3 separate regions of the Homo sapiens genome follow, and all the other regions are linked to region 2. Evidence: fine-mapped expression QTL. A gene starts in region 2. Each other region holds a variant in brackets. All regions are shown on one strand. Distances are from middle to middle. Region 1 overlaps CUX2 (cut like homeobox 2). Region 2 holds the start of MAPKAPK5-AS1 (MAPKAPK5 antisense RNA 1). Region 3 overlaps SH2B3 (SH2B adaptor protein 3).

What was found.
Region 1: its variant is fine-mapped to the expression of MAPKAPK5-AS1 in whole blood (TOPMed, PIP above 0.99).
Region 3: its variant is fine-mapped to the expression of MAPKAPK5-AS1 in whole blood (TOPMed, PIP above 0.99).

What each region holds. Positions count from the first base shown.
Region 1 is chr12:111,163,998-111,174,826 of GRCh38, reverse strand. The region is part of intron 1 of CUX2 (cut like homeobox 2); the gene reads right to left. Among named protein-coding and RNA genes, the nearest start is that of MIR6760, 130 kb to the left of the region's middle. The variant T/A (reference allele first, on the strand shown) is at 5,499.
Region 2 is chr12:111,837,026-111,847,854 of GRCh38, reverse strand. It overlaps MAPKAPK5-AS1 (MAPKAPK5 antisense RNA 1), which reads left to right and starts at 4,850. Exons shown (of 2, transcript NR_015404.2): 1 at 4,850-6,528; 2 at 7,378-8,088. It overlaps MAPKAPK5 (MAPK activated protein kinase 5), which reads right to left and starts at 5,627. Exons shown (of 14, transcript NM_003668.4): 1 at 5,086-5,627. The coding sequence starts at 5,121. RefSeq lists silencers at 3,282-3,450, 5,132-5,481, 5,562-5,741 and enhancers at 4,942-5,041, 5,772-6,051.
Region 3 is chr12:111,444,227-111,455,055 of GRCh38, reverse strand. It overlaps SH2B3 (SH2B adaptor protein 3), which reads right to left. Exons shown (of 8, transcript NM_005475.3): 3 at 8,202-8,303; 4 at 8,023-8,114; 5 at 7,837-7,931; 6 at 7,512-7,726; 7 at 7,229-7,400; 8 at 3,433-7,073. The coding sequence ends at 6,754. ATXN2 (ataxin 2) reads left to right here. Exons shown (of 25, transcript NM_001372574.1): 24 at 1,211-1,379; 25 at 2,216-2,842. The coding sequence ends at 2,244. LOC124903019 (a long non-coding RNA gene) reads left to right here and starts at 10,311. Exons shown (of 2, transcript XR_007063462.1): 1 at 10,311-10,829. RefSeq lists enhancers at 6,462-6,531, 9,652-9,921, 10,672-10,791. The variant C/T (reference allele first, on the strand shown) is at 6,497.

The DNA of each region.
Region 1 (10,829 bases), 670 kb after region 2:
GATCATCATCCTGGGGAAGGCTGCTGATACCTCCAAAGAGAATTGTGGTTGCTGTCTAGGGTTCACGGGTGGTGATGTCCCTGTTCCCTTTGTCTGGTCACCAGAGGGCACCCCAGTCTGTAGAGGGAATCTTGCTTTTCCTTCAGCCCACCTTGGGGAGCTTGGGAGTATCCCGTGCCCTTTCTGAATCTCAGTTTTCCCCCTCTGCAAAATGGGCACAACTCCACCTTTCCTGCAGGGTATTTGGAAAACTGGATGTGGTAACCATTGCAGGTAAACTGTCCCGTGCTTTTGGCCAGCTAGTATAAGGTATTGTGTATCCAACTAGGGGCTGCATGTGACTCACATATGACACACACAGCCCTACCCTCAAGGAACTGCTAATGTCACGTCAACATAGGACAACTTCTTCAAGTGAGAAATTAGGGTTCACAGATTGAAGGGTGGAACCAAACTGATCAGGAAAACTTCCTGGAAAGCAGGAGCGTGGACTCATTCAGACACGTCCCGTGCCTCTCCATGCCTGCTGTCATCAGCCTGGTCTGGTCACTGCCAATTCCTGCCTGGATGCTTGCAGGGGCCTCCCTGGCTCCATGCAATTCTCTGCCATCTCACTTCCACCCTGGCAGCCAGACAGGGCATTTCAAGATGTAAACTGGATGTTGATACTTCCCTGCTTAAAACCTCCCCGGACTCCCCATTCCATTTCAGATCAAATCTGAACTCTCCAGCCCAGTCTGCAAGGCCTGTGTGGTCAGGGCCCTGCCTGCTTCTCTACAGCATTTCCTCCCACAGTCCTTGTGCTTTGCTCCACCCTCTGGCCCTTCATTTGGTTCCTGGAAACTGCCAAGCCCAAACCAGCCCCAGGACCTTTGTACGTGCAGTTTCCGCTACCTGAATGCCCTCTCCTCCCAATTCTTTGCCCAGTTCAGTGGTTCCCAAAGTCTCTGGCCCAGCAGGATCAGTGTCACCTGGGATCTTGTTAGAAATGCAAATTCTTGGACGGGCTCCAGACCTACTGAATCAGAAACTCTGAGGGTAGAGCCTGGCGATTTTTTTCAAGGAAATTTCAGGTGATTTAAATGCATGCTCAAGTCTGAAAATCAATGGCCTAACTCAGGCCTACCCCTCAGCCAAGTTGCAGCTTAAACATTACTTCCAGCAGACCAACACCCCAACATGAGGCCAGTTTCCTGCTGTCGTGAGCCCCTGCTGCTGCCTCCTCACCTCTATGAAGCACTATGGCAACTGTGATGTCATCAGGAACTATTTCAAGTCTGTGCCTCTTCATAGCTAGACTAAAAGCTCCAGGAGGGCAGGTACCCCTGTGCGCCCAGCACCTCATCGTGCCTAGAAGAGAGTAGGTGCCCCGGAACTATATGTTGCATGAGCACATGAATGAATGCTCAAATGAACAAATGAATGAGTTCTGGAAGAATGACAGTGTTCATAAAGAAAGTGCCCCCTGGCATCCTATTTTCCATCCACCAGCCCACAGATCAACCCTGTCCCCGTCCCCATTTGACTTTCTGAGTATCACCCTGGTCAAGTCAGGAGCCAATCACAGCAATGTATGGGAATGACCATCAAATTAGAACAACAAGAACATCAACCAAAGAACCAGCCAAGGGGAGACTCCCACGCAGTAGATGCCCAGCTCAGGGTCTAAGCCTGAACATCCCTCAAGAAGAACAACAAACCTCTCTCTCCCTGACAGCAACTGGCTGTGCAGACAGCTTCCAGATAAAAACCTAGAGACCAAAAATTTGCAGGCAAGAAGTCTGCCCATCAGCTTGGAAGATTCCAGTCCCGCACTCACCCAAGTCTTCTGGCTGAGAGGCTGAGGCTGCCTCGAACTAAGCCCCGAGTTTATTGGAAGCTTCTCGATGCTGCACGGCAGTTTGCTCAGCTCTTGGAGCTAAAGCTGGAAGGGAAATCATTTCTTTTCCTATAACTCAGAGCAGTTATATTCTCTTAGTGTGGACATCTGGCTCACTGCTGATCTCCTTACTTACGTTTTCCAAACGATATCAGTTCTGGGAAGATCAATTATTACTGAAAAGTCGAGAAACGTTCACTGGTTATTTGCATTGATTTGGTTGACAAGACACAGACTCCTTTTAAACTACAGATGTCCATGGAAGGGACAGAGAGGAGAAAAACACAAGAACCCCAGACAGCTCGAGGTTCGGAGCCTCCACCCAGCTGCAGGAACTGCACAGAGTGGAAAGCGCTGGCTGGGATGGGGACACTGAACCACCCTCCCGGAGTCCCCCAGATAGAGCCATTTCCATCAAGACAAACAGGTAGCCAGTGTTGGCCAGCACCACAAGCAGCCACGATGATATAATTTGTTCGTTACTGCATCATCTTTAATCAATAGGATCTGGAGTTTCTACAGCTTGGACAGCCCAAATCTCTCTGGCAGCCAAGAACCAGCGGGTTGTTAAAAGGCCCGATAGTTCTGCCTCGCTAATGGGTGGCTGGTTCCCTCAACCCTGCTGATTTTTTAAATAAACCTAAATTCCAATAATTGTTTAATGTTTATTTTTATTTAGTTCTGGTTCAGATGCTCTGCGTCTCTCTGACAGAAATTGATATCTGGCTCCTGGTGAGCTTTATTAAAAAACAGGCAAACACACATGCACATACACACACAAACACACACACAGAGGCACATGCACACACAAAGGCACATGCACACACACACACAAGCATATGCACACGCAGAGACATGCATACGCACAGGTGCATGCACACACGTGTGCACATGCACATGTATACGCAGGCACAGGTACACACAGGCATATGCACACACATGCGCACACACAGGCACATGCACACACACACAGGTGCATGCACATGCACGCACACACACGCACGTGTACACAGGCACAGGCACACGCACACACAGAGAGTGCATATGCTGCCTGCCCATTGGGAAATGGGTTATTTATTTGGTACAGGTAAGGCCCAGGACCCACATATCTGGATGGGAGAAGACAGAGGGCCAATTTCCCAAGCTCTGCCTTCTCTCCGGCTCCTTCCCCGGGAGGCGAAAAGGGACCCTGCCATTCTTTCACCAGGGAGCCCTGTTCTCAGCTCAGGCACTGGACAAAGGTGACACTGAGCCCCTAATTATGGCCTGCAAACCCCTTCAGCATCACTGTGGCCACAGGCTGGGATGACTCCTCAGAGAGGGCACTCTGGGCTTTTCCGTCCCATAGCCCCAGATGTGTCAGGTGGCTGTGCTCCGGAGACCCACTGAGCCACTAGCCATCTGCGTGCACAGGGACACGGGACCGGGGTTTCCCCACAAGCCATGGAAACAAGGAAGCAAGATGTCTCCGGGCTGCTTGCATTGGGTCAGAGAGAGACCCACTCCCACTGGTGCATAAGAAACCCCTCTCGTCTGTCCTTCTGGCCGGTCTCAGAAAAGCCGCAGTGAGTCTGGGTATTAAGGGGAGGTTTTTGGTGCTCTCAGCAGGCTGCACAATGCACTAAGGGGCTCAGGTGTTCACTGGCAAAATCACTGCAAACTGATGACCTGCAGATCGGGCTTGCCAACAAGGTCAAGGTGTGTGTGAAGGTCAAACTCGAGGCTTTCCTTCCATACTCTGCACCCCGTCCATCAGACTGGGGGTTGCCCAACTTCTCCATCTCTGTCACCCCCAAGTGGAATCAGCCACTGACACCTGCTGGGATGACTCCAGGTGTTACCAGCACCTATTCTCTCCTTGGATGCCAACGCCACTCTGGGTCACAGCCCAAGAGGCATCACCAGGGCAACCAGAACACCTTGCTGGACCCTACCTGGCGCTTCCCCACTCCCCTCCCATTCCCATGCACCTTGACCAGAATTGCCGATGCCAGACATGGGCCCGGTCCATCCCTCCTTAATCTCTCCCGCTTCCCAGGAGACACTCCCATGGCTTCCACATGCTTATTCCCTCCACCTCGGCCTTCCTACCACGCTGGGCCCGAGGTCAGGGACCCAGCCACGGAGAGGAACAACCTGCTATTTTCATCTTTCCAACACACCACACATAAGAGGAAGTGATGTCAAAGTTCCTCTTTCTGTCGGAGAATGGGGAAGACTGGAATCATTGAGCAGTTTCTGCAGCAAGTGGAGAGGATGTTGAAAAGAACCCAGGCTTTGTCATCAGAAGAACTGGGTTTCAGGAGGCAGGGGTTGCAGTGAGCTGAGATCGTGCCACTGCATTCCAGCCTGGGTGACAGAGTGACACACCGTCTCAAAAAAAAAAAAAAAAAAAAAAAAAAGAAGAGCTGGGGGTGTGCATCCAGCTTCAGTCACTTCCTAGCTGTGTATCCTGGGCACATCACCCTATCCTGTGATCCACGGTGGGGGCAGTTTTTTTTTTTTTCTTTCTTTCTTTGAGACGGAGCTTTGCTCTTGTTGCCCAGGCTGGAGTGCAATGGCATGATCTTGGCTTACCACAACCTCTGCCTCCCAGGTTCAAGTGATTCTCCTGCCTCAACTTCCCGAGTAGCTGGGATTACAGGCATGTGCCACCACTCCCGGCTAATTTTGCATTTTTAGTAGAGAAGGGGTTTCTCCATATTGGTCAGGCTGGTCTTGAACTCCCGACCTCAGGTGATCTGCCTCCCAAAGTGCTGGGATTACAGGCGTGAGCCACCACGCCTGGCCAGTTATTGTTCTTAATACTCTCATCCTGGGAGACTCAGGACGAATGCTCAAGTGCAATCCCTTACTGCTGCATAGGGGCTGTTACTGTTGGCACCCCAATTCTTGGAGGCAGTTTCCTTAAATTCTTCCCCCTAGTACCTTGCATGGGGCATCCAGTGGCCCTGTTTGCACAGGGAATTTGCTTCCATCCACAGCTGCCACACACAATCTCTAGCGGGCTCCCTGCTGTCCACATATGGCCCATAGTCATTCCCTGCCACCCTCATGCCCTCTGGACCACCCTGGCCTGCCACCAGCCACCCCAGCAGAACCACGTCTCTGTGTGTAATCGACTCTAATAATTGTCCCAATACATAAGGCGTGTACTCAGGGTCTATTATCAGCTAATGAGTAAATAATATTCTGTTCTAAATCCAAAAGCGCTATTAGATACCAGAGGGGGACTAATGGGCGTTTTAAGACCCCTTTAATCACATATTAACGTGACGCGAAGCAGGCTGCGGAGCCCATATGCCAACCACCCTGCCACTGAGGAGGCTTTTTCCTCTTTAAAAGAACAAAGTCAGGGAGAGAGCCAGCCCTCCATCCTCAGGGCTGGTTAGGCAGCCAGGCCGACCCGCTGAGGGTGGAAGAATGTCCCTGATCCGATTGGCTATCTTTGAATAAAACGAGTATGGTTGTGGCCATCCCTGCTTTTCTGGGGCATGGTGGGGAAAGGGGGTTCTGTTCCTACGGACGCTGTGATGAATTACCACCAACTAGGGGAGTTTAAAACAACAGGAATGTCTTCTCTCCCGCTTCTGGAGGCTGGAAGTCTGAAATCAAGGTG[T/A]GGGCTGGCAGGGCTGCGCTCACTCTGCAGGCTCCAGGGGAGGGTCCTTCCTCGCCACCTCCAGCTGCTGGTGGTCGCGGCCATCCTTGGTGTTGCTGGGCTTGTGGCATCGCTCCCATCCCTGCCTCTGTCATCACATGACTTTCTCCCTGAGTGTCCCTGTCTTCATGTGGCCTTTTGACAAGTACAATCAGTCATTAGATTTAGGGCCCACCCTACTCTAGTATGGCCTCATCTTAACTGATTTCACCTGCAGAGACCCTGTTTCTAAATAAGGTCATACCCTGAGGTTCTAGGTGGACATGAATTTTGGCGGATGCCATTCAATGCAGGACAGAGGTGAGATGGAGGGGTAGTGATGACAGTGGGGGGAGGGGGCAGGCAGGGGGCTCTGATATGGACCTTCATACTCTGAGCGACTATAACATAGAGTTCCTGCCATCTTGCAACCCCCACCCGGCTGAGCATTCCACAAAAGTTCAAGCACCCGACCCAAATTCCTCCCACTGATCCATCATGTCCTATTAGCAACTTGCGTTTCTTATTAGCTACTTCCATCGACTCATATTAATATTTGTTTTCCCTAATACAATGCAGGAGTCTTCTCCGATTAGTAACTTTCATATCACATTAGTGGAAACAACTATGAATACAATACAATCCCAATATGACACAGTTTGATGGGGAGTCACTAACACAATGCGACTCTCCCCTGTGATGGCACAGGAATGTCGCTCTGTTGTCAGGCAGAGCTAGGGAACGTGGAAACAATCAGTCCCCAGCATGCTGAGCCACATGGGCCACCCTTGACCGACGGGACGAGGTTCTGGTGTGGTGGGAGGTCCTGCTTGGAAGGAACCAACTTAGTGCGTCTCTCCTTGTTTCCAAACACCCACCCATCAGATCAATAAGGATCATTCCAGCTATTCTCCAAAACTTCTGAGCAGCCCTGGAATCTGCAGGGGACAGGTGACAGGCAGAGAGAAGGGCTTGTGACATCTTCTGCAACCCAGATCTCCACAGCTCTACCTTTATCAGTGTGACAGGCAGGGCTGGTGTTGCCCAGGTTAATTCATCAAGGATGTGTGAACACAGCAGAGTTGGGGTGAGGTGAGGAGCCACAAACTGGGTTGCTGTCTGATGAGGCCTCAGGAAATGGGTTGGGGAGGAACGGCGCTGAGACGGTGCACATCTGTCAGGGCAGTTTAGAAAGACTTCACTCCAGCCAGCTTGGCTCCGGACTGGCTTGAGTTCAAATCTTATCACTGCCCTCTCTAGGTGATCTCTCTGTGCCTCAGTTTCCTCCTCTGTAAAATGGGGATAAAACAGGGCGTACCCTGAGCGCAGTGGCTCACAACTGTAATCCCAGCACTTTGGGAGGCAGAGGTGGGTGGTTAACTTGAGGTCAGGAGTTCGAGACCAGCCTGGCCAACATGGTGACACCCCTTCTCTACAAAAATACAAAAATTAGCTGGGCGTGGTGGCGTGTACCTGTAATTCCAGCTACTCAGAAGGCTGAGGCATGAGAATCACTTGAACTCAGGAAGCAGAGGTTGCAGTGAGCTAAGATCATGCCACTGCACTCCAGCCTGGGCAACAGAGCAAGACTCCATCTCAAAAAAGAAACAAACAAACAAACAAACAAACAAACAAACAAACCCAGGGCCAACCTAATAGGATTGTTAGGAGGATTAAATGAGATAGGAACAGAAAAAACTTAGAGCTTTGCATGGCATCTGACAACGTGGTAAATCTGCCTTAAGATGCAGCACAGGCTATGACTGCAAATCCTGAAGTGACTCGGTCCCTTCTACCATGGACGGGGGTCACCCCTCCTTGCCTTTCAAGTTCACCCACTTGTTCTGAGTGAGCTCTGGGCTAGGCATTACAGAAAAATAAAAAGTTGAGGATGAAACAGGCCCTCCCCCTCGAGAAGCCCATGGTCTACTTAGGGGCACAAGCTACAGAACCGAGAGGCAGGGGTCATATCACAAGAGGTTTTCGAGCCAAGTCAAGGAGTGTGAACTTTATCTCGATGGAAATAGGGAACAGTGGAAGAAGCAAAAGCCCCTAAGCTTCAGTGCAGGTGAAGGAAAGAAGGCCTGTGGGGACAGGGGATGGTGCTTCCCTTGGTGCCAAACCACCTGTCAGCTCAAGTCCTGGCAGAAAGAGAGGCCAAGGGATAGCAAGAGACAGAGACAGACAGGGGCAGGGAGGACAGTGCAGAAGCTGAGACTGTGAGCTTCTTGTGACAGTGCTGGCGCTCTCGCTCTCCCTGCCAGCCTGTCTAGGAGACTGGCAGAGCCCCCGCCCTGCCCTGCCACAATCCATTCCAAGCTATCCCAGGCAAGGTTGCCGAATAATTCCCACCGCCTCCAAACGGCACTCCACGTGGCAGCCAGCAGCCTGCTGCCAAGGGGCAAGTGGCCAAGATTCCCTTCCAACAGAGACATCCCCTCGCCAATCAGAATGCGGCCGGCACGCGTCCCAGAAAGTTGGACGGTTGCTGTTCGCCAAGCAGATGATGCCGTCAGGACTTCTCGGTCCTGGGCAGTGTCCGCTACCCCCGCCCAAGCCTCCCAGCAAGGAGGGTCCACTCTCAGGGACCAAACACCGGCCCCTTCCACGTTTAGCCTCTGCAGATCCTCCTGATGAAAGCACAGACTCTACAGTCAAAATGCGAGGGTTCAAAGCCTGGCCCCTCCATCAAGCAGCTGTGCAAACCAGAGCAAGTCACTTAACTTCTCTGAGCCTCGGGCTGTGTTCACAACATGGGGTTCATACCTCATAGAGTTGTTGGGTGGGTTAAATGAGAATATCTGCAGGAAGTGCTTTTCCAGTGCCTGGCACTTAGTCCATGCTCAATAAATGTTAGTTTGGGTATTACCATCTACGGTATGTCGTCTACTCAGAACTCAGCTAACTGATAATGTCAGCTTTCCAGAATGGAGCTAGGAGCCAGAGGGTTAGAAGAAAAGGCTTCCAAGCAGTTAAAATAAATGTCGCAGGCTGGGCGTAGTGGCTCACGCCTGTAATCCCAGTGCTTTGGGAAGCTAAGGCAGGAGAATCGCTTGAGGCCAGAAGATCAAGTCCAGCCTGGGCAACAATAGCGAGACTTCGTCTTTACAAAAAAATGAAAAAAGTTAGTCAGGTGTGATAGTGCACACCTATAGTCCCAGCTACTCAGGAGGCTGAGGCAGGAGGATCACTTGAGCCCAGGAGGTTGAGGCTGCAGTGAGCCGTGATCACACCACTGCACCCCAGCCTGGGTGACAGCGAGACACCCAGTCTATAAAAACAACAACAACAAAAAAGAGTCAAAGTGGACACACTGAAAGCGCAATCATGAAAACCATTTCATATTAGTAATATTAGAGTAACATGCTTAATATAATCGTAATTAGTAATCACCACCACCAAACACTGTGGATAGCAATTTAAATACGTCTTGGCATTTCACCAGTAGGATGCTGGTAAATGTTAAACAACCAGCTCTCTGGAGAAAAAGGACAAATTCTGATATTTACCATTTCCATGGTGTACATTTTCCCACCATGGTCAATTTCAAGCCCTGCTGTGATGTCACTACACGTGGAGCTGGGAGGCGATGCTTATAGCTGGTTCTCACCCACCAGCTCTGGTCACTGCTGCACGAACACTCTCCACATCCCAATGAGGTCAGTGCTATTTTTACCCCCATTTTGTAGACAAGGACAATGAGGCCCAGATACACATATTTCTTCACCCAGGGTCATACAGTGAGCAAGTGGCAGCAGCACCAGAATTTGAGTCCAGTTCTGTGTGGATTTTAAAGTTCATGTTCTCTGCACGTGGCCCAAATTCCCCGCCATGAGACAATAACACTGACCGTCTTGGTAGAGACAGACGACAGTCTGTGTCCACTCTCCACCAAACCCTTGCATCTTCTGTGCTTAACTCTGTTTGACAACTTCTGGAGGCCACTGCCTCAATGAGGTCACTCTGGTTTGGCTCTGAAGACGTCCTGCCATGTGGGTCACCATGGCCCTCCATGACCTTCCTACTTCTCTTTTCTCAGGGGGCAGAAAGATGCATCTCTTCCCTACCCAGAGAGCTAAACACCAAATGTTTTCCTAATAAAATGGCATATAGGATCATAGCCTCCACCCCATCCTTACCCGCATAAATAGCCCCTAGTCCCTTACGACACAGAGGCCCTTCTGACAGCATCTACAAAGTAGCTTAAGAAAAAAAGGGAATCCATTGCTCATATAATTGAACAGTGGAGTGGTGGCTTCAGGTATGGCTGGATCCAGCAGTTCAAATGCTATTCGCAGGGTTTGATTTCTGTCTCTTGGCTCTGCTTCCCTCTGATCTGTCCTCCTCCTCTCCCCCCCATGGCTGGCCCTAAAACTTTAATTTTCACACGAGTCACCTGGAGATCTTGTTAAAGTACAGATTCTGCTACAGGGGGTACAGGCAGGGACAAGTCTCTGTATTTCTAATGAGCAATTCAGTTCTACTGTGGACCACACTGTAACATCACACTGTTAGCAGTGAGGATGTGAATCCCCAACATTCACATCCCCAAATTGCTCATGGGACCCCTAACATTCCTCTGTGCCTCAAGGTTTCATAAACTCCCAAAGCAATTATTGCGTGACTTCTAACTACGAACACCTTGGGGGGCTGATCCAATTTGTGTGGATCCCTCATGCTCACTTTCTGTTATTGTCTTTTGCTTGTTCTCTTTTTTTTTCTTTTTTATTTTTTTGAGATGGAGTCTCACTCTGTTGCCCAGGCTGGAGGGCAATAGCACAATCTCTGCTCACTGCAACCTCCACCTCCCAGATTCAAGTGATTCTCCTGCCTCAGCCTCCCAAGTAGCTGGGATTACAAGCACGTGCCACCACGCCCAGCTAATTTTTGTATTTTTAGTAGAGACGGGGTTTCACCATGTTGGCCAGGCTGGTCTCAAACTCCTGACCTCAAGTAATCCACCCGCCTCAGCCTCCCAAAGTGCTGGGATTACAGGCATGAGCCACCATGTCCCGCCCCTGTTCTAACTCCTACTCAACAAACACCAAGTGTCCCCTCAATACCAGGCCTGGAAGGGTGCTGGGAATATGGGAAGCCCTAATCTCAGCCTCAGGGAGCTGACAATTCCCTCCATTTTGCAGGAAAACCCCCAGAGAGTCTGTGAGTTCAGTTTCCAGGTAGTATTATAATAACAGCATATGCTTAGACAGTACTTACTACATGCCAGGGACTGTTCTAAGTGCTATAGAGATATTAATCCATTTAATCTTTTTAACTCACCCTATGCCCTAGGTCCAATGATTAGCCCCATTT
Region 2 (10,829 bases):
TTCTGGAGAAGGCAAAAACTATAGTGACAAAGCAAATCAGTGGCCGTAAGGGGCGAGGAATGGGAACAGGGCTGACTGCAACCAGGCAGAAGGAACTTTCTAGCAGGGATGGAAATATTATACACCAGAGTGTGATGATGGCTGCATGCCTCTATAAATTTACTAAAAATTACTGAACATTTACACTGAATGTACTGAACTGTACATTTATATTGGGGGTATTTTTATGATGTACAAACTATACAATTTTTTTTAATTTTAAAAACTAAGGAAATGGATTTTCACAAACTCCATCAAATATTAACGACTCGCTATACATAATAGAAAACAATATGTAAGAATCCCTAATCCCAAAATGCCCACTCTCCAGATTTAGCTAAGTGCCTTGGGTGTAGCAAAGTCATGGGGCTATGGGACTAGAGATACAGGTAATAGAAGATACAGGGAATAGAAGATAGAGCCTCCACTTACAGCCATTTGACCTTATCCTAAATTTTTTTTTTTTTTTTTGCAGAGTCTCACCCTGTCGCCCAGGCTGGAGTACAGTGGAGCAATCTCAGCTCACTACAACTTCCACCTCCCGTGTTCAAGTGATTCTCCTGCCTCAGCCTCCCGAGTAGCTGGGACTACAGACACCTGCCACCACACCCAGCTAATTTTTTTTTGTTTTTTTTAGTAGAGATGGGGGTTTCACAATGTTGGCCAGGCTGGTCTCAAACTCCTGACCTCAAATGATCTACCCACCTCAGCCTCCCAAAGTGTTGGGATTACAAGCGTAAGCCACCACGCCCAGCCCCTTATCCTAAAGTTTTTAAGAGTACAGTAGTCCCCACAGATAAGGGAGGATATGTTCCAAGACCTCCAGTGGATGCCTGAAATCTTGGATAGTAGTGAGCCCTATACATACTGTTTGTTCTGATAACCAAGATGACTACTAAGTAACTACAGGATAGGAAGCATATACAGTGTGAACATGCTGGGATGATTCATGTCCCAGGCAATATGGCAAGAGATTTCATTACACTACAAAGAATAGTGCTTAATTTGAAACTTATGAGAGCCAGGCATGGTGACTCACACCTGTAACTCTAGCACTTTGGGAGGCCGAGGAGGGTGGATCATGAGGTCAGGAGTTCGAGATCAGCCTGGCCAACATGGTGAAACCCCGTCTCTACTAAAAATACAAAAATTAGCCAGGCATGGTGGTGCACACCTGTAATCCCAGCTACTACTCGGGAGGCTGAGGCAGAAGAATTGCTTGAACCCAGGAGGCAGAGGCTGCAGTGAGCCAAGATCACGCCACTGCACTCCAGCCTGGGCATCAGAGCAAGACCGTCTCAAAAAAAAAAAAAAAGAAAAAGAAACTTATGAATTATTGATTTCTGGAATTTTCCACTTAATATTTTCAGACTGCAGTTGACCATATGTAACTAAAATTGTGGAAAGCAAAACCGTGGATAAGGGAGGATGAGATCTTAAAGTCCAATCAACCCACTCTCAGGTAGTCTGGCAGCAAGAGTTAAAGTGTTGTGGCTGGAGGCCAGGAAAATAGCTTTCCAGCTGAACACTACAGGTTTGTCTCAGTGCTCACCATCTGCTGAACACCCCCCAAAAAGCAAAACAATGAATACAACACAATGCCACAGACCAAATGTTTTTTATTTGATGTAATGCTGGCTTGCTTCCAAAGCAGTACATCCTAATCAGTACTGATTTTCAAGTCCACCAATAGGTATTGGCTGGAAATGCCCAAATTAGCGTAGATTCACCATGACCTATTGAGTACTTCTGAGTGAAGAAAAGCTAAAAAAATTTTAAGAAAATTGGGCTGGGCAAGAGTCAAGTGAAAAAAACAACTCTTTCTAAAGCACCCTTAAGTTGCTATGAGCTAATATTCATTGAGCTCTTGCTGTTAGGTATTATTATTTTTTTGAGAAGGAGTCTAACTCTGTCGCCCAGGCTGGAGTGCAGTGGCATGATCTCAGCTCACTGCAACCTCTGCCCCCCAGGTTCAAGCGATTCTCCTGCCTCAGCCTTCTGAGTAGCTGGGATTACAGATGTGTGCCACCACACTCGGCTAATTTTTGTATTTTTAGTAGAGACGGGGGTCTCGCCATGTTGGCCAGAGTGGTCTCCAACTCCTGACCTCAGGTGATCCGCCCGCCTAGGCTTCCCAAAGTGCTGGGATTACAGGTGTGAGCCACCGTGCCTGGCCTAGGTATTATTATAAGCACATTTGGGTATATCTGCTCATTTAATCCTCAAAAACTAACAAACAAACCAACAAAAAACCCTATAAGCTGGGAGTGCTTTTATCCCATCTACAGATGAGGAAACTAACGAGACAGAAGTGAAGTGATGTCGTACTCAGACACACGGCTAATAAAATAGAAACGCTGGGCTGGGCGTGGTAGCTCATGCCTGTAGTCCCAACACTTTGGGAGGCCAAGGCGGACAGATAACCTGAGGTCAGGAGTTCGAGACCAGCCTGGCCAACATGGTGAAACCCCATCTTTTCTAGCAATATAACAACAATAACAACAAAATAGCAATAACAACAAAAATAGCCGGGCGTGGTGGTGTGCGCCTGTAGTCCCAGCTACTCGGAGGGCCAAGGCACAAGAATTGCTTGAACCTGGGAGGAGGCGGCTGCAGTGAGCCGAGATCACACCACTGCACTCCAGCCTGGGTGACAGAGTGAGACTCTGTATCAAAAAAAAACATAGGGTGAGATTTCAACTGAGTCTACCTAGAGAAGCTATAACAACCACTAAGTGACATTGCTGCCCTATTTGTATACTTATCTCCTGGAACTATGTCTCTCTTCTGTTCAAAACTCTCCTATAGTTCCCCTTTTAATCAGGGTCAAACCCAAAGTTCTTACGATGGCCTACAAGGCCCTAAGTGCCTTGCTTCCCATTGCTGCTCTACATCATCTCCACTGACCCACTGCATTCCAGCCACCTTGCTCTTCCTACATCACACTACACCTGCTTCTACCTCAAGGTCTGTCCTTGCTATTCCCACTGCCTGTTATACTCTTCCCTGAGACAGTGGTGGCTTGCTCTCGCATTTCCATCAGAACTCTACAGTGTCACCTCCTCGGACTACCCTATTTAACACAGTACTCCTCACCCTTTCCACACTTAATTAAAACCACCTAGCAGTAACCCCACCCTCTAGAATATAAGCTACATGACAGTAGGGACATCTAGGAGTCTGGCTTGTACCATTTGTGTCTAGGACACCATCTGGCACACAGGAGACAATGTTTAAAAACTGGCCACATACGCTTTGATTCACAACCCAATTAAATAACTTCAGGCGGCATATCATGCCTCTGTGCCAATAAAACCCAAACCAAGGCTGGGCGCGGTGGCTCACACCTGTTATCTCAGAACTTTGGGAGGCCGAGGCGGGCAAATCATGACGTCAGGAGATGGAGACCATCCTGGCTAACACAGTGAAACCCCACCTCTACTAAAAATACAAAAAAATTAGCTGGGTGTGGTGGCACGTGCCTGTAGTCCCAGCTACTGGGGAGGCTGAGGCAGGAGAATCACTTGAACCTGGGAGGTGGAGGTTGCAGTGAGCCAAGAGCATCCCACTGCACTCCAGCCTGGATGACAAAGCCAGACTCCGACTCAAAAAAAAAAACAAAACCCAAAACAAAAGAAGGATATGTCAAGGCAGTCTTTTAGAATCTTTATGATTTAAAACCTCGTCTTCCTTGGGCCAGGCACGGTGGCTCACGCCTGTAATCCCACCATTTTGGGAGGCCAAGGCGGGCAGATCACGAGGTCAGGAGATCGAGCCCATCCTGGCTATTACGGTGAAACCCCGTCTCTACTAAAAATACAAACAAAAGAAAAAATTAGCAGGGCGTGGTGGGTGGGCGCCTGTAATCCCAGCTACTCGGGAGGCTGAGGCAGGAGAATGGCGTGAACCCAGGAGGCGGAACTTGCAGTGAGCCAAGATCGGGCCACTGCACTCCAGCCTGGGCGACAGAGTGAGACTCCGTCTCAAAAACAAACAAACAGACAAAAAACCTGGTCTTCCTTAATGTATATGTTATATGTTGATGCCTCCTTTAAAGGGTTAAGTTTCTTTGGAATGACTTGATGATTTTGAGAAACTATATACACCACCTAAAGAATTGGTAGAAATGTAAATTCTTAATCATTACTAGTAACTGTCTTGAAGGGGAAAATAACCCCAAGCTGCCAATAGATGCCTGTCCTTCAAGATAAAATGAAATTATTCAATGCACTGGGCTGACTTAACACTACAAATAAGTAAATAATACATCAAACTTTAAGCGTCAATGTTTAATTTTCATAAGACTAATTTCTTAGCTACAGCTGTCAAGACAGATAACTGGCCCTGAGTGGGCAAAATGTGCCTTTAAAAAAAAAAAAAGTTAAAAACAGGTTTTAGAAAACTTATTTTATTTGTGTAATTTTCGAACACACATTTGCTTTTCTTTTGGTTTAAGTGCAGTTAAGTCACAGGAACTGTTAACTTTTCCTAAGTAAACTCAATGCTTCCTAGGAGAAAGAAGAGGAAAAAGAAAAAGGGGAGAATACACGGAAAAGTGAGGACAACCTATTCCCCAAAGGACAGGTTTTGTACGGCGAACCACCTTTTTCCAACTGCAGATTTCCAGAAGGCTGATTTCAAACAAATCGGGAGGGATGGATAAATTCCAACTCTCCAAGTTCTGTAGACCATCCGGAAGCAAATGCTGGCGGCCTTGGGGAGTGATCGAAACGTGTAGTAGTAGTAGTAGGGCTCTCTTCGTCCCATTCATTGACACTTAATAGTGTCTCCAGGCCACTCACCTCTGTTCCAGCTGAGCACAAATCACACTCACCAGGGAAGCTGGCGGGAGTCGGACACACACCTACACCCACACCCATAACCCTTGGCCCCAGGGCTGTAAAGCGCGATCCACGGAATCCGGGGGAGGCCGAAACCCGGTAGTCGATGGAACCTCTCACTGCAAAATCTCCCTGCTTTTTGAGGCTAGAGCCGAGAAGAACGCCACAGGACAACGCGGGGGAAGAGGGGGCACCTCCCCCTTACCTTGATGGCTTTGTCCATGTCGCTCTCCTCCGACATACTCAGTGGGGCCCCCACAGCCGGGAGAGGCGGAGGCTGCTCAGCAGCCCTGTCCCCGCGCGGCCGAGGGAGCAAAGGGCTCGGCACTCGGGCCCCTGGGCCTCGTGGCGACGGGCAGCAGCCGCCCCTCGGGACCGGTGGGGATGAGGACCCCGGCGCCGGCTCTGCTTCGGCGGGCGGCTCTAGGCTGGCGGCAGCAGCAGCGGCGGAGGCGGCGGCCCCTGGGGACAGGTCTTTGTGCTGGGCCCCACGCGGCCGCCTCCTAGCCTCATCCCCAGCTGGGGAGGCAGGCTCCTGGGGTAGGGCGAGGCGGGGAGGGCCTCGACCCGGGGCGCCGTGCAAGGGCCTCGCGGGGCCGCCGCTTAGACCTGGGCTCGCCAGGTCCTAAAGAAGAGCCTGCGCCTCCGCCTCCGCCGCCTGCACCGCCGCGAAGCCGAAGCCGAAGCCGAAGCAGAGCTCGGCGCCGCTGCTCCCGCCGCCGCCTCAGCGCCACACATCGCCGGGACACCCGCGCCGGGCAGCCCCGCCGGCCGCCCTCACGCACGCGCTGTGCCCCGCGGGAGCTCCAGGCCGCCCCTCCTGCCGCCCAGCTTCGTGACTCCACGGCCCCACGCGCCCCTTGCTGCCTTCCGCTGGGGTTTCCGAGCCGCCCCCGAACCGCGCACCCGACTTGCAGGCGTCCGCCTGGGCCTCCCTAAGACACGCCGCATACAGGACAGGCCCCTGGGCCTTCCGCGGCGATGGCGCTGCGCTAATGACGTCATAGGCCCGGACTCGCGTGAGTGCGCGTGCGTTGGGGCCTCAGCCTTTATCTCCACTCTGCGGAGATTCACGCCTGGAAAACGCTCTTCTGAGAGGATCTGTGGAGGTCAACCCAGGAGAGAGAAGACAGGACTGAAGCACTGAAAGGGTCCTGCCGTTAAGGGCGCAGGATTGTATAGAATATATAATAGCAGTAGCAGCTCTGTTTACGGAGCATTAACCTTACGTGGAGTTATTTCCTGCATTTCCTCCTTTCGTCTTTACAAGGTAGCCGTTTGGCGTCGTGAGGTATGGATGTTCCCATCCCTAATTTGCAAAATAGGTAACTGAGGCTCAGGAGAGCTAGACTAGTTTGTGCACAGCCGAGAAGTGGTCAAGCTAGAATGGGACCCCAGGTTTGTGCTCCCTACTCTCCACCGATAACCTATCAAAGGGCTTTGCAAGAGCTTTTGACTAATCGTCTGTCAATGGTTCTTCATTCACGTATTAATTGCACATCAGTATGTGCCAAATCTACTAGACATTGGAGAAACAGTAGGAACAACACATGGTACCGGCACATGGATCTTTCAGGAAAACGAAGTAGGTAATAAACAGGAAAAAGCCCGAGTCTGATGCTAAGAAGAACATAAACAGGATGCTGAGGTAAGAGAATAACTGGATGTGGGGACTTCTTCGTATTAGATGATTAAGGAAGGAATCTCAGGAGGTAACATTTAAGCTGAGACCCCTGAGGAATGAGAAAGGGCTGGCTATTGGAAATCCAAGGAAAGATTTCTGGGCAGATGGGTAGAAATTTTAAGGTGGAAATAAGCTAAATATGTTCAAGAATCAGCAAGAAGGTCATTGTAGCTGGAGTAGATCGAGTAGGAGGAGACTGATAAAGGGTGAGGTTGGAGGCTGGGCGCGGTGGGTCACGCCTGTAATCCCAGCACTTCGGGAGGCCAAGGCGGGCGGATCACTTGAAGTCAGGAGTTCGAGACCGGCCTGGCCAACATGGCGAAACCCCGTCTCTATTTCAAAAAAAGAAAAAAAAAAGTATAAAAAGGATGAGGTTGGAGATGTGGGCAGGGGCTGCATCATATGTGGCCTTTGGGGGTCATAATCAGGACTTTGGATTTTATTCTAAGCTATTGTAAGGTTTTAAAGTAAAGAGTGATGTGAACAAATTTGTTTTAAAAGATCACTCTGCTTTGTAGAGAATAGAATATAGGAAAGCAAGAATGGAAACAGAGCTATTAGGAGGCTATTGGAGAATAATGCAGATGAGAGATTATTACACTGTCTGAACTAAGGAGGTGGCGGTAAAGGTGTAGAGAAGATGGATTTTTTTTTTTAAACGGTCCCACTGTCTAGAGTGCAGTGGCGTGATCACAGCTCACTGCAACCTAGACCTCCTGGGCTCAGGCGATCCTCCCACCTCAGCATCCTGAGTAGCTGGGACTATAGGCGCATGCCACCATGCCTGGCTAATTTTTCGTATTTTTTTTGTAGAGATTGGGTCTCTCCACATTGCCCCGGCTGCTCTCCAACCCCTGAGTTCAAGTGATTCACCTCCCTTGGCCTCCCAAAGTACTGGGATTACAGGCGTGAGCCACCGTGCCTGGCTGAGAAGATGGATTTAAGACATATTTTGGAGGTAACATTGTCAGGACTTCCTGAAGGATTAGATGTGGAAGGGAAGGATAAGAAACAGACCAAGGATAACTTTCAAATGTATGCTTAAGCAACTGGATGGATAATGATGCCATTGAGTGAGTGAAAAACTTGATGGAAGTGGAAGATTCAGAGTTCATTTCTATCTAGGTTAATTTGAGACATACCAGAGCATAAGTTAAGTAAGTAATTGAATATTGGAGTGGAGACTTATTTGTCTACCGAATTATTGTTTTCTTTGTCGGACATACACCTACACTGCATTCCTCAAAGTAAAATTTAAGTGTGGCTCTGTGCCTATGCTCTCCCCAGCGGAAAGTGACCAGAAGAGGTGTGCAGTTTCCAGGCCTGGCCCATACAGACCTCCAACAGGTGCTCCCCTGTGCTGTTACTCCTTCTGCCAACTGGAAGCAGATGGTGACCAGGCTCTGGAGAAGGCAAGGCCTGAAGATGGGAGATTCCTAAGTGGAGGAGAACTGTGCCTTACTGACCTAAATATCCACTCAGTATTGTTATGTGAGAATAAATAAACTTGTGTTGACCGTTTACTTACTTTGAGTCTTTTGTTCTAGCAGCTTTGCCTATGCTACCTAATATGAATAAGAGCAATGATCCCGCGATGAACTTTGGGAGAAAATTTTTAAATGACTTCAGTTGACATCTGTAACAGGAAATATTCGTGCAAAAGTAATTGTGGTTTTTGCCATTTAAAAATAATGGCAAAAACTGCAGTCATTTTTGCACTAACCTATAGAAGATGCCTTGGATTTATTCATTCATTTCATCCAGTAAGAATTTCTCTCTGCCAGGCTCTATGTCTTGTAATAGAGATGCAGAGATGATGTCGTATAATAGAGATGCAGCAATGAAGAGACAAGGTCCCTGCTCTCAAGCAGCTTTTAGTCTAGCTGTTCAACTTACCGACTTATTTGCACGTGCTTTCCCACTACCTAGAAACTCATGCTTCCCTCATAACACACACACATACACACACAGCCTGGTTTCTACTCATTCTTCAACTTTATTCTTCTTTGAGGCGGAGGCTCACTGTGTCCCCCAGGCTGGAGTGCAGTGGTGCGATCTCGGCTCACTGCAACCGCCGCCTCCTGAGTTCAAGTGATTCTTCTGCCTCAGCCTCCCGAGTTGCTGGGATTACAGGCACCCGCCACCACGCCCGGCTAATTTTTGTATTTTTAGTAGAGACAGGGTTTCACCATGTTGGCCAGGCTGGTCTCGAACTCCTGACCTTAGGTGATCCGCCCACGTCAGCCTCCTAGAGTGCTGGGATTACAGGCGTGAGCCACCACACCTGGCCAATTCTTGATAATGTTTTTTCAGAAAGGCATGCCTTGCCCATACCCTCCTTTCCTAATCTAAATCAGATGTTCCTATTATCCTGTAACTAAATAATCTCAACAAGGGAAAGAATCTTATTTGTCTTATTGGTCATATGTCCCTAATACCCAGTCCATTGTAGGTACTTAATAAATTTATTTGTCGAAGGAATCAATGAATGGAGAAGGCAGAACCCTGAAGAAAGCGGTTTCTTCCAATGAAATTCCTCTGTTTTTTGCTGGTGTGGCAGCCCTGGTTCACAGCCTCCAGTGATGCTCACATCTTGGTATTTATGATCTTATGTAGTCCTCTCGCCCTGCATGTGGTCTGGATCAAGTGGTTTGCTTTCAGTGAACAGATGTCATGTTCAAGATTAGGTAGCAGAAAAACTCTGGCTTCCATTGGGGCCCTCTCTGACTCTTTTACTTATCTGCTCTTAGGGAAGCCAGCTCACTTGGTTCCTAAGGCTGCTGTAACAAAGTATCACAAATTGGGTGGCTTAAAACAACAGAAGTTTATCCTCACAGCTCCAGATGCTAGAAGTCTGTAATGAATGTGTCAGCAGAGGCCGAGTACTGTGGCTCACTCCTGTACTCCCAGCACTTTGGGAGGCCAAAGCGGGCAGATCACTTGAGGTCAGGAGTTCGAGACCAGCCTGGCCAACATGGTGAAACCCTGTCTCTACTAAAAATAAAAATAAAAAAATTAGCCAGTGGTGGTGGCAGGCACCTGTAATCCCAGCTACTCTGGAGGCTGAGCCAGGAGAATCACCTGAACCCGGGAGGCAGAGAGGTTGCAGTGAACGGAGACCGCACCTGTGAACTCCAGTCTGGGCAACAGATCGAGACTCTATCTCAAAAAAAAAAGTGGTGGGGCACGGTGGCTCATGCCTGTAATCCCAGCACTTTGGGAGGCCGAGTTGGGCAGATCATGAGGTCAGGAGATCTAGACCGTCTCAGCTAACACGGTGAAACCCCCCATCTCTACTAAAAATACAGAAAAATAGCCAGGTCGGGTGGCGGACTCCTGTAGTCCCAGCGACTCAGGAGGCTGAGGCAGGAGAATGGCGTGAACCCGAGAGGCACAGCTTGCAGTGAGTCAAGATCACGCCACTGCACTCCAGCCTGGGCGACAGTGTGAGACTGTCTCAAAAAAAAAAAAAAAAAAGTGTCAACAAAGCCATGTTCCCTCTGAAGGCTACAGGGAAGACTCCTTCCTTCTGGTGGCTCCAGACAGTCCTTGGCATTCTTTGGCTGTATCACTCCAGGCTCTTCCTCTGTCTTCACATGGCCTTCCCTGTGTGTCTCTCTGTGTCCTCTCCTCTTAATAAAACAGTCGTTGGATTTAGGGCCCAACATCATCCAGCACGATCTCATCTTAATTACATCTGCAAAGACCCTATTTCCAAATAAGGTCACATTCTGAGCTTCTGTGCAAACATGAATTTTGGGGCAATATACTATTCAGTCCATTACAGACATGGCGAGGAACTAACATCTCTTACCAGCTGCCAGTGAGTACCTAAGGACTACCCACACATACATGAGCTTAGAAAGGATACTCACCAAATTGAGCCTTTAGCTGATGGCATCCCCAGCCCACAACTTGATCGTGGCCCCGTGAGAGACTATGCCAGGCGCACCCAGCCAAGCCATACCCAAACTCCCGACCCACAGAAACAGACTTTTAAATGTTTTTTAAAGTACTAAATTTGGCCGGGCACAGTGGTTCACGCCTGTAATCCCAGCACTTTGGGAGGCCGAGGTGGGTGGATCACTTGAGGCCAGGAGTTTAAGACTAGTCTGACCAATATGGTGAAACCCCATCTCTACTAAAAGTACAAAAATTAGCCGGGCGTGATGGCGCCTGCCTGTAATCCCAGCTACTCAGGAGGCTGAGGCAGGAGAATCGCTTGAACCCGGGAAGCAGAGGTTGCAGTGAGCCAAGATCACACC
Region 3 (10,829 bases), 390 kb after region 2:
AAGGCTACCTTGTAAGTAGAGTTCCACAGCTCTGGGAAGTTTGGGCGTCCTCACCCTGCAAAGTTTAGGTTCTGTGGTGTAGCGCACTGCAGTTGATTTGCTTTTTGATAGTGGGGAGGGAAGCCGGTTTGGTCCGTGTGGGCCAGCGTGGTTTGGTGGAGTCAGCTTCATAAGAGCTGGGGTCCTGTAGGTGTCTACCAGAGGCTGGTGGCTAAGTAGGCATGTGAACTTACATGTAAGTCAGGGATCCCTAAAACCTCACTCTGTTTTTGTGCTGAAAGGGCAAAAAGGTTAACACAGGGAAGCTCAAATTTGCCATGTGCCCGTTTGAATATGTGAGAGTAAAAACGGCATTTCATCCAAGGCTTATCGTAGTCTAGAACAGTGCACAGTGTGGGAAAAAGGAAACAAGGGCTCTTCCTGGCCCTGCCAACCCCCTGCAGAGCTGGAATCCAGCTGTTTGGGCTGACTAAAATCACCTTTCCAACTTGACAGTGAGTGAGACCAGGTTGAACTTGGTACAGAGACGCTGGGCTGGCCCAGATGACTTCAGGTTACTCCTTTCCATCTCACTGGAGCCATTAAAAACTCCAACTCCTCCTCCTCCTCCTGCTCCATCAGCATATCTCTGAGAGAGTCACGGGGGCCTAAGAGTCTCTTTTCACTGCCTGGTGAGCAGACCAGAAGCAGAGGGAGAGAGGCAAATGAACAGAGGTCCAAGTAATTCACATACTTGACTGTGACAGTCTCTGCTTATTAATGTAATCTGTTTTCCTATTTGAAAGGGATGTTATCTGCAAAACTACCTCAGGCCCCACATGGCAGCCTGATTCTGAAGCATCATTGAATCTTGTATGATATTAAGTTGAGAAAGCTGCCCTTGGATCCAGTGTCTAATCTTTGTGAAGATCTTACCCCATACATAGAATACAATGATCAGAAATGTCAAGGGTTAGGACAGCACAGCCCTGACTTCTACCCAGGCTCACTTGTTGCCTGCTCCCTGACCCTTGCAGGATCTGCCCAAAGGTGAAGCGCGTCTTCAGGTCAATAGATAATCTACTAGAGATTGTCCCCAGAGAACAGAACTGGGCCCTGAGGCCCACCGTTGCCCTTTCCTGAGAGTCCCAGCCCAGTGAAAGGAACACAGTTGACATGTTGTTGAAGCCGGAGATGTTGCCTGTATGCGTAAAAGAGCTCTCTGTTTCAGGCTCATGTACAGTCAGGAATGGTTCCTTCTCATCCAACTGCCCATGCGCCAATGATGCTAATGACGACACAGCCACCCGGCGGTCCCCAGGCCGCCCTCGCTCAAAGTGCACTACAGCCCATTCCAGTCTCGACAACAGCGCATTTCCCCTATATGACGCACCCTTCAGGTGAGGCGTGTGTGTGCAGGGGCCGCCGGGGCACCCCAAAGCATTCTGCTCGCACAGGTGGAATGGCAGGCAGGGCCAGTGCTTCAAGCCCCGCATTTGAGAACTAGCAAGACCCGTCCAGGAGTGTGCACAGGAGGGACTGTGACGATCAGTTCAGCATCAGGGCCTGAGGCTTCCGGGAGCCGAGTCTGTGTGTGTTCTGATGGTATACAGGATTTGGCTTGATGAGAAGCAGCAGCAGCAGCAACAGCAGCCTGATGCATGCCTAGGACTCAGTTGGCCTTCCTTGTTATGACAGGCTGGACAGGGCAGTGTTTTCCTTCCTGAGTCCCAAAAGTCTGACATGTGGGGGGTTATTACCATGGCAGAGTTTGATTGTAGCTCTGGAGAAGATACTGCTGAGAAAGCGCTGTGGATGGACTGGCTTTGAGTGTAGCGTTAGCCCCAGCCCCTGAACAGGGGAGAGCGCCCTGTGATTGTGCTCTACTACTTGATGGCTGCCATGGCGATACTTCACAGTCTGACCTGTTATTCTGAAAGCAATACTGGTGCTTGGCTAATATTTGGGGAGGGGGTTTGTTAAGGCCTTTTTTTCTACCCCATGAACAAGTCTTCTGGGAGTTTTATCTGAAGTGGTTTTACGTCTGACTGGTTTGTTTCTACCCACCCACCCAACCCTCCCCACTTTGGTGCAGATGGGAGGGGGAAAAGCGAATTCAATTTTGAGTTTTGTTCAGCTAGCACGAGGATAGTTTACAATCATGTGCTGCAGAGACACTAGGCTGATGTGTGGTGTTGCCAGTTTTCTGTTTCAATGTTCGCTTTTCTTTTTACAGTACAAGCCCACCACCAACAGCAGTTGTAAGGCTGCCCTGGAGGAACCGAAAGGCCAAATTCCCTCCTCCCTTCTACTGCTTCTACCAACTGGAAGCACAGAAAACTAGAATTTCATTTATTTTGTTTTTAAAATATATATGTTGATTTCTTGTAACATCCAATAGGAATGCTAACAGTTCACTTGCAGTGGAAGATACTTGGACCGAGTAGAGGCATTTAGGAACTTGGGGGCTATTCCATAATTCCATATGCTGTTTCAGAGTCCCGCAGGTACCCCAGCTCTGCTTGCCGAAACTGGAAGTTATTTATTTTTTAATAACCCTTGAAAGTCATGAACACATCAGCTAGCAAAAGAAGTAACAAGAGTGATTCTTGCTGCTATTACTGCTAAAAAAAAAAAAAAAAAAAAATCAAGACTTGGAACGCCCTTTTACTAAACTTGACAAAGTTTCAGTAAATTCTTACCGTCAAACTGACGGATTATTATTTATAAATCAAGTTTGATGAGGTGATCACTGTCTACAGTGGTTCAACTTTTAAGTTAAGGGAAAAACTTTTACTTTGTAGATAATATAAAATAAAAACTTAAAAAAAATTTAAAAAATAAAAAAAGTTTTAAAAACTGATCAAGTTAGTGTGTGTCTGTATAAGCTACTTCTTTGTAGGATACTTAATATCAAAGCAGGTGTGCTAAGGGTGCATTTTGAATATCCCGGAAGGTAGCTGTGAAATGATTTTTCTTCTTCACCCTTAGTTCTGGTTCAAGGTATCTCTAGAAAAAGACAAGACTGAGCTATTCTCTTTGGTGGATTAGAGATCTGCTTCAGGAGGAGGAAGGTTGGCCAGAGTTGGGCAGCACTGAAATTCCACATCCTCGGGCTGACACCGATTCTGTAAGCTTCCTTTTTAATATCTCCTGAACCAAAATGAGTGTCATTAGCTGGAAGTTCCCAATTCGGGCATTTTTCTACTTTACCAGTAGGGGGCAGGAGACACTCAGAAAAAAATTGCAATAAAGAAATCCAGAGGGCATGAAGGCTGAAAAGATACAAAGATGTACAAAGCTGCTTATTGACATGGATGGACTCATAAGCATTTGTTAGTATTCCCAGATTGCAACGGGGAGGACAAAGGGAAGAGCGAGTATTTGGGCAGGGCAAGGATTTTGTAGAGACACCATGGTCTTAATAGAGCCTTTAAATATTATGACAGCAAATCAAGATTCTGAAAACTTTTTAATTCACATATAGCAATTTGTACATTATAGCAAAATTTGCATTATTCAAGAATAAGTTACTTGTACAGTACATAAAACAATACATAAAAATTTGCCAAATACCTTCTGCCTATAATGATACAAGATGAATCCACTTTATGTTATCACAATGTGCTGTATATTCTAACCAAACACAGGATGTCAGATGTGTCCTTGTTAATATACTCGCAAGTTCCTCTAGCTTGTGGGAGATGTTAGAGCTAACACATTTGCAGTAAGGGACTTAGTCCTGAATAGAAAGCATGAAGGAATCTCAGGCAACCCTCAGGGAAGAGTCCAAGGCCTTGACTTTAGGTTAAGAAACTGTTATGTAAAAATAGTGTTCTCTGGCCCAAGATTTTAATGATTGCTATTCCTTTTTCCTACGGTCCAGAAATGATCAAAGGCAGAAGATTTATACCAGATAAAGCCATATGGATTGCTGGTCTAAAATTCAAGGCAGGTTAGTTGACTTAATTCTTTGGTGCTGGTGACTGTTAGTTTGTAAAAGTTCAATAAGTCAGATGAAGGAAGGGATGGTGCCGGGAGCTGTCAAGCTGTACTGGTGGGGTCTGTAATTAGAGCTAACTGGAGGGATCATGATGTCTACTGTCCAGTTTGGTGTTGAGCCATGGCTCTCGGTAGAAGTTGCCGGCTGGGGCCTGGTCAGGACTGGAAGGAGAGTGGTGGGATGTGCTGTGCCTATGGTGGGCTAGCTGCAGCCAGTGGGGTGCCTGCCCCACACTGCTGCCCACCCCTTCATCAGCTGATTCTGCTCCCACATAAAGAAAGGTGTTGGCTTAGTGTCACTTCTTCCTAGAGCCATGGGAGTTTTCTGTCAGCATGTTTTTGAGCTGTCCTGGTAACTTGGACGGGAAGCAGTCTGGAGGTGGGTGCCTTCCAAATCTCTGCCACAGAATCTGAACTTGCACTTTGCAGCCTGTTAGTCAGAGCTGCTAAGTTTGCTCTACCTGGTGTGCCTCTTGGCACCACCTGAGAGATGTATGTAGAGAGGCTGCTAAGAAATGAGTGCCCCTGGCATGAAGACGTCATATCCCAGATGTTTAACTTCTGGCTGGAGGGAGGGAACTTAATTTGGTTCATTATCTACTGGGTACCTTTCCTGTGCGGAGGGGAGGACCAGTGACTTTCCATAATAAGCTTTCTCCTTTAAAAAAACTTCAGACTCTTACTTACTCTTTTGGTTCACACTAATTAGCATTCATTTTCCAGAGAAAGCTGCTTGACTTTGAGGAAATAAAGACAGGTGTCCTTAAAAATGGACTGCAAATCTGGATCAGTGTCAGGTCTGCTTTAGGGTCCATGAAATCACCCAAGAGTGTTGGTACTAAAAGTGGTGTAGGCTGGGCGCGGTGGCTCGCGCCTGTAATCCCAGCACTTTGGGAGGCCAAGGCGGGTGGATCACCTGAGGTCAGACATTCGAGACCAGCCTGGCCAACATGGTGAAACCCTGTCTCTACTAAAAATACAAAATTAGCCAGGCATGGTGGCTGGTGCTTGTAATCCCAGCTACTTGAGAGGTCGAGGCAGAATCGCTTGAACCAGGAAGGTGGAGGTTGCAGTGAGCCAAGATTGCACCACTGCACTCCAGCCCGGTTGACAAGAGAAACTCCATCTCAAAAAAAAAAAAAAGAAAAGTGCATAGGGGTTTGTTCCCCCACCCTCTGAAAGACCCCAAGGAAATTCTAGAAGCAAAAATTTGACCTCTTGGAGCACAGAGACTAAGTATAAGTGGAAGAAGCAGACCTAACCCTCCTCCCAGGCAGTCAGTCCTATGAGTTTTAGGCTGAGGTTTCATTTTAGCCTCTGATCGATGTATCTGTAAAGCTGATCTAAACTCCCAGTTTCCTAGAAGCCACTGCTGTGAGCCTGGGGGTTGTACTGAATGGCTCTGCTGGCACCCAAGAGCAGCTGACTCCACTGTCACTGCCCCCGTTTCTGAGCCTCCAGACAGGTTCTGGGAGGAGCCAGCCCCCTATGAATTGTATCACTTGTATAGATAGAGATTTGACTTCAGGACCTCCCTGGATGGTGGAGATTGTGTGTGCCCATGTGTGCAAGGAGATAGATAGATTCTCAATCCAGTGAAGCAGTAGCCAGCTAGAACAGAACACTGATTGTGGGCTATTAAAGGAGTTTCTCATTAGTTATGGCACCAGATTCCCAGCTTCCATTTTGGCTCAAAAAAGGAGCCTAAAACCCACTTGTGGGATAATTTAATAAGCCATTAGATGCTTGGAGGGCACCAAGCCAGCCTTGTTGCTGAAGGATTTACTAGAAAGGGCCTAGGAGTCCTTCTTCCCTTTTTGCTTGCTCTTCCCCTAGCCCCAGTTAATTTAACTATCACTGTAAAGCTGCTGTAAACCAGAATCCAGTTTTTTATTCGTAAGGCACCAGGATAGAACTGTTCTTGCCACCCTCCTATTTCAGTAATTGCCTGAATTTCCCTGAAAGGGTGACATACTTCACTTCTTGACATTTAGGAAGGACAGTGGCCACTCAGTGGCAGGTGACTGTCCCGAGGATGCAGTAGACAAGCCAGCATGCTGGCTCAGACTGTAAATTAGGTAGGGTTTGCATAGCTGTTTCTGACTACAAAAATAGCATGGGTGTTAGTTGAAACAGTGCACTGAAATAAGCAGTGGTTAAGTTTTGAACCTGAATCCTTTAAAGAAATTAGTCTGAGGTAAAATGTTTTAAATCATTTTTGACCTTCAGCTTGTGCCTCTGACAGAGCTTTTGTCCTAAAGCTGAGAGTAGAAGCAGGATTAGATGTGGTCATCTGTGGTGTGGACACAGCAGACCTGCCATGTGGACTGACGGTAGATGGGAGAACCGCTTGTTAGTGTTCTGGGCTTCCTGATGATCCCCCCCTCCTCCCCGTAGAAAGTCTGTCATCCGCTGTGACAGTGTCAGTGAAAAAGAGAACAAGTTTCCACTGCCAGCTCTGGCCCTCACCCCAACTCCTTTCTCTAAGAGTAACGGGGACTGGGCATAGGGACCC[C/T]GGGCAGGAGCTAGCGGCATCCTCTAACAAGAACTACATCTGTAAACAATAAGGAGAAAGCCAGGTGGATAGATGAAACCTACAGGAGGGCCCTTCAACAGGCCTAATAGAAGGGTCACTTCCAAACTGGCACGAGCAGTTAACAGTGTCCCTTAAATCTTTCTCTGGAAGGAAGGAAAGATCAATTACATTCACAAGTTCACACTTCTGCCTGTGCTCCTCAAGGGCAGCTGTTGAGGCCTGGAATTCCTCACTGGTCAGAGAGGTGTGTACTGATTGTCTATGGCCCGCAGGTGGCTCCGGGAGGATGAGTCCATTTCGTAGTCCGAGTCCCGGGCTCGATTCACAGGCTCATGCTCCAGGTGCTGCAGGCTGTTGGCCAGTTCTTCGGGCGAAGGCACCAGGTGGAAGATCTGCTCGGGGGGTGAGGATCGCCCTGGGAGACCCTCTGGGCTGAGCCCCCGGGGACAGCCAGAAGAACTAAGGTGGGGAAGGCCCAACTCTGAACCCCAGTGAGGAAGGGACTCTGAATCCCAGTGAGGAAGGGAGAAAGGGAAGAGGACCGTGTTGCAGGAACCTAGGACAAGTGACCAAGAGAGACCACACCATCAGTCTTGAGGCAAGTGCTGACAGGACACAGAACAAGATACCTGTACCCCTGGGTCTGCAGCAAGCCTCTACCCTCTACCCAGTGTCAGCCACCCCCTTCAGCAAAGGGCAGTAGGGTCAGACCTGGTGGTTGGGAGACGACTACCACGTAGCTGGAGAGCCGGACATCACAGGCGGCGCCGCACTCGAGTGGGATGGGCGAGCGCTGGAAGTGGTGGAGCATGTCCACGACCGAGGGAAAGTGGAGGTGCTGCACACGGCACTGGCCCCGCTCTGTCAGCGACAGGCGCAGGTGCTGTGGGAGGAGAGGATGGTGGGCTCGGGCTGTCCCTCTAGGACCCTGAACTCCAGTGGAGAGGGGTGGCACGGTCCTGCCTGCCCCACCCCACCCCACCCCACCCCATACCTTGGCTATCCCCTGAAAGTTGAAAGTGAGCACGTATTCCCCACGCCGCGTCTCGCTCTGCCGCACCAGGAACACTCCATGAGCATCAGGGCCCTGCAGCTGAACCAGCTGAGCTGCTTTCACTCTGGAGATGGGGCCGTGGAACCAGGGGTAGCAGGACAGGAAATGGTCCGTCTTCTGGCAGGCCGGGTCCAGCAGCCCCCCAGGAGAAGCACCTGTTAGATAAGATGGGTGATGGTGGTCGCAGGGGGCTACCTTATGTCCTGGGCTGAGTCTGGGTTCCAGCGTACCCAGAAGACAATGGCCTAGCTATTGGTTTACCCACCTTGGTTAAGGGAATCTGTGCTGCCCCTTGGGGAGCTGGACGTGCTAGGCTCTAGGGCTGAGGGAATATGCATCTCTGCTTCTGTGCTCTCCAGCCTGCTGGAGAAGAGGCTGAGGTTAAGGATCTGGGCAGGTCAGGGGTGGTAGCAGCAAAGGTGGTGCCAGGGACGAGGGCCCAGGACCTCACCCTCGGCCTGTGCACTCCGAGAGCTCAGCCATCCATGAATTCAGCTGCTGCTCGTCTCCCACCTCAAAGATGATGTCTGTCCGGTCCTTCACCTGGCAGGGAGGAAGGGAACAGGGTTGGGTCTGCTGTATGTGTATGTATTTGTATTGCCCCAGGGTGTGAAAAGCCTTGTCACTCACCTTCAGCACAAAGGTGTAAAGGTTGTCAGGCATCTCAAGCCGTGTGCACCACCGGACCTCCTGGATGCTGGAGCAAGCTGCTTGTAGCTTGGGCCTTGAACTCTACGAGACCAAGTTGGGGTACTCAAGGCTTGTTCCTGATGCTCTTTCTTCCAGCCAGGCCTGAGTTTGTCTATAGTCTCCCCAGGAGTCCCCCTTTTAGAGAGAGTATCCATGGTGTTGCTGGGCAGGCTCTGAGCCTGTAGTGAGGTCCAGGGTGCCTTCCCCTAGCCTCCTGAACACCATTCACACTGAGATCCCAAGAAGCATGTGCTGGCAGAAGGCCAGCCCTCCCAGCCCATTGGACCTGGACTTGGAGACATTCCCACTCTGCCATGTGTCTGACATCCGTTTCTCTTCCCACTGGTGAGCAAACAGCTCCCTGCCCAGCCAGGTGATAGCAGCTGCTGACGGTCTCATCACACCAAGCCCAAAGGGGCAGAGCCTAGCATGGCTAGCCTAAGTTATAGCCACTGTAAAACCACAAAATCTTGGCCCTGGACCTTCCCAGGACACCCGGCACATAGGGCTGCAGGGTGGATAGGAGTTAGCCACTGTTCCTTTGCCAGCAGGAAACCTGCTCCCAGGTCTCAACTGACCCTGCAGATGCTTCCTGTGCTGGGGCACTCTGCAGCCAAGGAGCCAGCTGCTTCCGGTTGGGAATCTGCTCAGGAGGGGGTTTGCCCCTCCCCTTCCTCTTGTGATAAGACTGAAAAGATGGCCGAAAGAAGAAAAGGGGAGAAAGAGATGAGATAAGGAATGGACAGAAGTGGCCCCACTGGGCCCCCTCCATTCAGGTGTTCCTGGAAAATACTACAACCCCTAACAAACTGGGAGCAGGGGGATGGAAAGCAGAGGCAGCCCAAAGGATGTTCTAGCAACTGTGGCTTCAGGTGATCTGACCTCCACCTCAGCCCAAAAGGGCATACCTTGGACTGGAGCTGCTAGTGCTGTTGAATTGACCCCCAAAACCAGATGCTTAACCTTGCTTTACACACAGAGCTGCCAGGTACCTCTGTCGGAAGGATCATGACCCAGTGGCCTGGCCACCTCCTTTATCCCCCTTCCCCACCTGCAGGAGAGTCAATGAACAGTGAGGTAAGAGGGCAGCCTGGCAGGAGCAGGATGGCCACCTGGGCCCTTCCAGCAGGTCTCCTGGGAGCTCCCGGGCCTGCTCTGGTTGGCGGACACAACAGGCTGGGGGAGAGTAATGACTGCAGGAATGACCAACACTGGCCACAGCTCACTGCGGCCTCTCACTAGAAAGCTGCATGACTAGAAAATTCCAGCCTGAAGTGACCAGCACCAGCCAGGGCATTTTCACCTCCTACTCCCAGAGGTCCAGCAGCCAGGATGAGGCAGGCAGAGTGAGGCCTCACATGGCATCCACACGGGCACTGGACACAGCGCAGTGTGCAGGGAGTGGGGCCTCTGCGCTCTTGCCCATTTTTACAGCCAGCCAGCCCTGCAGAGCCTTCATTTCCTGTCTGCAAGATGGGTAAGGTGCGAGTGGCCACTTCCTTCTGCTACTTTTCCAGTTGGCCCTGCCTGGCCCCCACCCTTCCCCCTAGCTGCAGGCCTTAAGGATCACTGGGAGGATATAGGCCAGGCCTGGAGGGGAACGGGCCTAGTCTCCCTTTCAGTTCCGCTCCAGGCCTAGTCCCCAGTGTCAGTGCTGAGATTAACCAGCAGAGCTGCCGGTTTCACTCTGACTCTGGCCCCTGCAAGCCAGCTCCACCCCCAGCAGCTGAAGAACTGCTGAGCAGGCAGGCAGTGGTGAAAAGAGGATTCCCCTCCTCACCCACAGCCAGCCTGGCTGCCACCTGCCTGCTGGCTGAGCACAACCCAGGGGTTCTTCCCCAACTCCCCACAGCAGCCCTTGAGAGCCGCCCAGGCCTAGAGCCACAATCTCAACCCAAGCCTGCCAAGTATCAGAGCCGGGGTCCGCCACAGCTACCTGGTGGTATGGGTGTCCTATGCCAGAGGCTCCAGCCAGGTTGCAGCGTGTGGGCACATGGGCGCAGGACAACCCCTGCTTCAGTCGAAACCTCAGCCTGGACAGCTCAGGCTCTGGCCACTGCAGGGAAGGACCACCAGATGCCCATCAGATTAAGCTATATGGGGGGATGGGTGAGAGGGGAGACAAGCTCAAACCTGGGGGCTGTGTCAGCAGCTGTGGGGGCTTTAGGTTCCCTCCTCTCACATGCCCGCTATTCCACCTCCCTCAAAAGTCAAGCCAGGCCAGCAACAGCTGCTCCCTGGACCTGCTTAGGCTCTACTGTGGTTGGGTGATCAAAGTGGCCAGATCATTTCAGGTATTTGTGGTTTGAACAGTAGACTGTCACCCACCACATCCTGCAGCGTCTATTTCTGGGGAGCAAGTCTTCTCCATTCCCAGCATCTAAACAGATGGCTTCTGTTTGTTATGGCCACTGTGGCTCCAGTGGGAATAATCTATTTCTTTCTTTGCTCTGGCTGCTAGGAATCTCAAAGTCAAAGACGTAGGCCAGCTCTGACACTACCCCAACGGTAGGACTTGTATTTATTTCAACAGCTAACTTTATCCCAGATGTTATAGTTCTTTTATCC